Regions from separate parts of the Homo sapiens genome. Here region 2 is reported to be linked to region 1. The links are microRNA targets in miRTarBase. Many come from high-throughput screens and were not tested one by one. Region 1 holds a microRNA gene; the other region holds the end of a gene's coding sequence.

Region 1 (3,000 bases):
CTGTGGTCTCCCTATACTTCACCTCACCACATCCATAGATGCCACATGGTTCTTGTTCCTTTATTGACAAAGGTGCTGATGAGCCCGTGTGTAATTGATCCTGAAGGAGTAAATTCTTCACAAAGTACAATAACAGTGTCTAATATCCATGACCAGAGTTTTTAGGCTTTTTTAAAATAGTAATCCGCATTCAGGAATCAGAAATGAAGCCTGTTGGAATGTGTGATATGAACAAGGTCTTATTTTTATGTAGATTAACACCTTGGTTTTTACGGATTAAACACAAAAGCATAAAAGCTGGAGCCATTCCAGAATCAAAGGAACTTTCCCTGAGGACACCTGGAATTAAGGGACATCAATTATTAGGAAGCTACACGAAACCAGAAGTGCTCCCAGAAGTTTCCATTGTCTGGACAGAAAAATTAAACAGATCAGCCCGAGAGAGTAAAGGTACCTCCGTGAGTGCCGGGGGTGATGAACATTCCATTCAAAGCAAAGTTGTGAAGCCTGAGGAGTTTCAAAGACTCCCCAAGTGCTCTATACCTTGAAAGTCGCTCACACAAAGCTGGAGCACCACCTGTTCCTGAGAATCAGGTTGCCATTGTGTCTTTGAGACACTGCCCAGTCAGGCCTCGGTTGAGATGAGGCCAATGATGTCACGTGTAAAATGCCTAAACTATCTTCATCTTTAGGTAGCTATTTGGGGAACTTTCCACCAAATGGGTTGGGGGAAAATGGCGCACCAGAGACACACGCCTGGGATGTGAGATTTTCTCTTCTGCTGTTAGCATCTCCTGGGTAAACCAATAATGACCCTCTCTGCCACCTCAACATCCACATCCGCGAAAAAGGCGCTGGTGAGGGTGACATTTTCATGAAGCCACAGAGCATGTTGCCCCACGCAAAGCTCTGAACTTGTGCACTGGCGGGCCGGGCGGCGGATTTCTCCCCATAGCGGCTGCACTGCGCTCTGGCTGGAGAGAAAAGAGGGCAGCGGCACAGTGGACAGTGCCTGGACCGCAGGCCAGTTCCCACAGCAGCTTAGGAAAGCAGGTGGCTCCCTGGGCTGGAGGAGGCGTGATGTCCAGGAAAGACCCCGGGTGCAGGTGGGAGAGGGAACCCAGCCTAGCAGCGGGAAGTGAGGTGAGGACCACACCCGTCCGAGTTGGACAAGGGCGAGGTGCACTTCGCGGCGTCACACCCTCCTCACTGCCCAACCCGGACCTGCCCCTCCTGTCCCTCTCCGGACTCACATCCCATGGCAAGGAGGTGTCCGAAATCAGTAGCCAGCATCGCTGTGGAAGCGGCGAGATCCACACTGCCCTGCCCAACCCTCTTGGGCTGCCCGCCTTCTCGCATATCGCCTGCTAGGATTCTAGTCCAGCCGCCTTGCCACCAACGGGCGGGGAACCGTTAAGAGCTACAGTTTCCAGCCTGCGTGGCCAGGAGCGCACCGCCCCGCTCCTCCCGCAAGAACTGCGCCCCGCCCCTGAGACCGGGGCATGCTGGGATTGCAGTCCCGAAGCGCTTGAAACAACGGGCGGGAGCGGTGAAGAGACTACAGCTCCCAGCATGCAGAGCCAGGCCGGCAGAGCCAGGCCGGCACAGCCCGGCTTCCCCCTTCAGGACTGCGCGCCGCCCCATGTTCATGCTGGCTGGGATTGTAATCCGGTCGCCCTGCAATTAAAAAACTGGAAGCTAATCAAAGATGACAAGTCCCAGTATGCCAGGCGTAGCTCCCGCCCTCCAATCCACACCTTCCCGAGTCCAGAGCAGTTCTGCCATGCCAAAGGGGAGCCTGGTTGTTCCCGAACCTCTCTTGCCTGCCAAGTGACAGCGAGACCAGGCGGCTTGTCTTATCGTGTAATTATGTCACTACCTCTCCCTGAGATGCTGGCTTCATGCTTCGTCATTGCCAGAAGTTTGATTTCTCACGGAGCAGCAGGGGACCTGGAGCTACTCGCAAAGCTGTCACGGTTGCCATATCTTGGAGCAGTACTCGCCCCGCCCCTTCTCCTCGCCCCGCTCCTTCCCTCTGCGCTGCCTCTCCCCTCGGCACCGCCCCTCCGTCTCGCCCCACCCCTGACACGCCCCCTTTGAACATGCGCAGTGTAGTCCCTGCGTAGGACGGGCTAATCGCCAGGTGTCTGACTGTTCTCCGACTTCTTGGCATCCTACGCGGGAAGCTCCCTCGTGAGTGTCTGAAACCGTCCGTTCGCTGCCAGAAATGGATATATGCGTTCCCTGATAACCTAGCACTTGCCTTTTCAAAGCCACCATTTCCTCTATCCTCTAGGCTGTCGCAAATCCTCCTGTTCATCCCAGGAGTGCCCCTTGGACCCCGGGCTGGCTGCATGACCCACACCTGGGTCAGGCCTCTCACAGGGACGCTCCTGCCACTCTGACAAAGAGTTGAAAACGTCACAGCGAAAGGCCTGACCCTGCTGCATCCAGTCAGGAAACAGCCACAGGGAAGGGAGCCCCTAAGACACTTTGGGAGCCACATCCACCGCTTCTCTGCCCCCGATCCAGGCTGGTTCCCAGACCTTGGGGTCCTAGTGTGGACCTCCCGGCCGTAATTAACGCAGGTGCAGGGCCAGAGAGCCCCTTGGTCCCTCCCAACACATAAGGGAAGTTTGTGTGGTGAGGTCATGAACAGTGTCTGCGTTTCTGCTGTGAATAGGACCTTCATGGAAACACTTAATTTCCCTTTTTAAATATCCCTTTGGAACCACGTTTAATAATTTGCTGGTGGAACTTAACAGTGATAATTCTTTGAATCCATTTTTCTTTTTTCTTTTTTTGACACGGAGTCTCACTCTGTAGCCCAGGCTGGAGTGCAGTGACTGACTCGATCTGGGCTCACTGAAACCTCCGCCTCCTGGGTTCAAGCAATTGTTCTGCCCCAGCCTCCCCAGTAGTTGAAATTACAGACACCCGCCACCTTGCCGGGCTAATTTTTGTATTTTTAGTACAGATGGGGTTTCGCCATGTTGGCCA
Region 2 (3,526 bases), not on the chromosome of region 1:
CAGTGTGATCCCAGGAAATCCCATGCTCAGAAGGGCCCAACACTTGGTTTAATACTTTGCTCTTGCACTCGAAATTTTCAATACTTTTTGAACCAAGACTCCACATTTTTATTTCTTACTGGATCTCACAAATTATGTAACCAGTTGTGCCCAGAAGTTGTTTTTGGTTGCCTAAAATATAATTTCAAAACAAGCACTATTTAAGTTACAGTAACAAATCCACTACCCAGCCCAGTCAGATAGACCTTGCTGATTGAAACTTTCAACGCTGACCTCTGAATCCAAATGTACTTATTGTTCCACAGGTACTGGAAAAACAAACATTTGTCACCTAAACGGCTGAGCACAGGTATTCTTATGTACACCCTTGCATCAGCAATATGTGAAGAGATCCACTTGTATGGATTTTGGCCGTTTGGATTTGACCCCAACACAAGGGAAGATCTTCCATACCATTACTATGACAAAAAAGGAACCAAATTTACCACCAAGTGGCAGGAGTCCCACCAGCTGCCTGCTGAGTTTCAGCTGCTGTACCGAATGCATGGGGAAGGGCTCACCAAGCTGACTCTGTCACACTGTGCCTAAGAACTCCAAACGGAAAGCGCCAAATGGCTGTTTAAAAAGTGCCCCAAATCAAATTGAATAGCCTTCAGAATAGAACCCTAGAGAATGTCTTATAAGGATTGTCTGCCATTTAAAAGGAAAGATGTCTTTTCTCTTTTGCACTGCTCTTTTAAGAGTTTTAGCAGATTTAGCAGGACAGATGCATTGAAGCCACATGGTTTAGACTTGATTGATAAAGGGAATGTTGCATTTGGGACTATGCTGCTAACGAAATGGTTTGAAGTATTTTCATGTTTGGATTTTAATAATAAACTGCCTCTCATTTTTATGAGGACTAGAGCTATAGTTTCTGCAGCTCTGCTCAGATAGTCCTCATAATCAGAGGCCTCTGGCCAACTGGGGCAGGACCTGTTTTGCTGGTGGGATCAGACTCTGAAAAATGGAAACGTAAAAAACTGGTTTGCATATCTCATCTTCTATCTATCTCCCTATCTCCATCTCTATCACCATCTCACTCCTTCCCTCTGCAACTACTCCCTGCCCTACCACCGTGGAGTTTAATAATTTGCTAGGAATCCTATTGAATTCGCTTTGCTTGTATATGTTGCATTTGTACTTGATGTGTTTAAGGTTCTGGGTAACTTTGATGCTTCATGACAAAATAGGCAAATCACGATGGACTCCCTTGTGATTCCTTTTTTAAAGAAATGCCTCTGATGCAGTCCTCACCAGTCCATTCAGTCATTCTACAGCAAGATGGTCCCTCTGTGGTGAGTGGGATATAAGGCAGTGCATCTTTCATGATCACAAAGAAAGCCTATGTTGTGGATAGCATTGCGTCTCTTGATGTAGGCATTGTTATGGCAAATAATAGCACTGTGGCCACATCTGTAAGGCCATTCCAGCCTAAATTTAGTGTCTCCCATAATCCCAACCCATGCACTAGGCTGGGTGTTCTCTCAGAATATAGAGGCAATGAATCAGCTTAAGACCCTGGGACACACAAAGGAAAAGGAAGAAGAATATTTAGAAGTTGTTATGGAATCCTGTGTACCCTAAAGTGTGGTAACCATGTTACCCATTCCAGCTGGGTTAAAGTGGAGGAGGATCTTGGCCAGGCCAGGTGCCCAGGTGACTAGTGCTGAGGTGCGATCGTTTTCCGTATCATTGTGTGCACCACCACCAATCCAGAACCATTTGCTCTCTTTGAGAACATTGTAGCACTGGATATTCCCTCTTTCCACTGAAGTCAGATCTATACAACTACAAATTAAGCATTTCAAAAGAAAAAGCCATTGTGCAGTGGCAAGAGTTGGAATCCAAGATTATGTAGACCTGCGATGAAGGAAGTAGCTGGCCATTCTCATTTTCTTTATTTCAGCCATATGAGTAGAAATCAAATCATTCCCATCCCTGGCTTTTTACTGAGCAGCACTTTGTTCTTCCAATTCAGCCCAACGTCTGGCCAAGTTGATGTTAAATTTTAATAAGAGTTTCTTTCTTCTTTCCAAATGCCAGTCAAGCATATTTGTTATGCATTTGAGTGGGGTAGCTCATTCTTTTCCTGAAATCTCATCTAGATTGCTTGCAATGCGACAAATAACTGTTTAAAAAATGTGCTGTAGTTCAGTGATGAGCTCATTGCCCCTCTTTAGGAAGGTAAGATCATGCCTAAAATTAAACCGAATATGGTAAGGAAAGACACTATCGTTATGCTCACGTTCTGCCTGGTCCTAAACCTGCCTTATTATTATTTTCAGAAAGCAATCTAATTAGAGCAACTTGCATAGATCTAGATATTAACTAATGAAAGAAACACCAAGTTCAAATGTGTTACCAATTATGACACACATTACAATATAATTATAAGGGGAGACATTAAAAACATTTTGTAATTCAGTGGTATAATTTGATGGGTATCACAACCACACCGTGTTTGTTCCCTGTCCCTTTGAAGAGGACTGTACTACCATCCTCACACTGTGCTCTGTTGGGATCACTGAGAGATTGACAACTGACAGAAGTGTTTAGTTGGCTGTTCCTGAGCACTTAGTTCATTTGGTTATAGCTAAGTGATATTAATGCCAATATTACTTGGGCCAGATTCTGACTCTGGAGTTTTAATCCCAATGTGCCCATTCATTTTCACTAAATATAAATGCATAGACACTTTAAACCAAGAAGATTAAAAGAGGAAAAGACCAGAATCTCTAAAAAACAGTTTACTGTTCTGTAGTGGACAATTTAAATTTTATCTCATCATAATGCCAAGGATTTTTGTTTGTTTTTTAAGTTCAGGGAGATTTTTTAAATCTCCTTGCAGTCTTGGCTCCATCTTAACCTTAGAGTGGGAGGACTTTCCCATCCCCCACCACCGTGTTATCTATCACTTTAATGAAAACTCAAAATAGTGAGGAAATGGACTTTTCTTCAGAACTTGAGGGGTTTAGAGATCAGGCTCATCTCTGCTTATAAGGAGGACTTCCTGGAGATGATCCCAATAGATCACCCTTCACTTTTGAAGAATAGCAGCTTCTAGCTGACCATGCAAAATCTCTGTTTGTTTTTAAAGACTGTTTCAAAGATTAAATCTATACAACCACTTTTATGACCAAAAAAGTTGTTGTGTCCCAAGTGTCCTAATTAGAAAGGCAGCTGGCTCTCCTGCAGCTCCCAGGCTTGTGTAGTCAAGTGCAGTGAACTGGGCAGTAATCAGCTCAGGACCATTGGCTCTTTCCTCCTCTTTCAGCTACAGACACATGCCCTGGCTTTTGCATTGACCTTGCTTTGTTAGTTCTAGACTAATTTATCCTTTTGTCAGACACTTTCCCTTTTTTAGGATACTCACAACAGAGTCCACTTTCAGCTATTGGAATACATTTTACCATAAAGCCCCCAAGGCTTTCTACCCATAACACCAACACAAAAAACCAATTAAGTTGCAGAGGGGGGAAATAAT

The links. Region 1 holds the annotated microRNA hsa-miR-3147 (GGUUGGGCAGUGAGGAGGGUGUGA, at 1,196-1,219, opposite strand). A microRNA usually pairs through its seed, bases 2 to 8, with sites in the 3' UTR of a target mRNA and lowers its output. Matches are read on the target gene's strand: a 7mer-m8 pairs with bases 2 to 8, a 7mer-A1 pairs with bases 2 to 7 and ends in A, and an 8mer does both.
Region 2: miRTarBase lists ST8SIA3 as a target of hsa-miR-3147. Seed matches in the 3' UTR shown: 7mer-m8 at 2,020-2,026.

What each region holds. Positions count from the first base shown.
Region 1 is chr7:57,403,249-57,406,248 of GRCh38, reverse strand. It overlaps MIR3147 (microRNA 3147), which reads right to left and starts at 1,224; the gene lies at 1,159-1,224. It overlaps MIR3147HG (MIR3147 host gene), which reads right to left and starts at 1,482. Exons shown (of 3, transcript NR_120505.1): 1 at 1,254-1,482. LOC105375299 (a long non-coding RNA gene) reads left to right here and starts at 2,130. Exons shown (of 2, transcript XR_927305.3): 1 at 2,130-2,193.
Region 2 is chr18:57,359,690-57,363,215 of GRCh38, forward strand. ST8SIA3 (ST8 alpha-N-acetyl-neuraminide alpha-2,8-sialyltransferase 3) reads left to right here. Exons shown (of 4, transcript NM_015879.3): 4 at 306-3,526. The coding sequence ends at 588. Among named protein-coding and RNA genes, the nearest start is that of ST8SIA3, 8.9 kb to the left of the region's middle.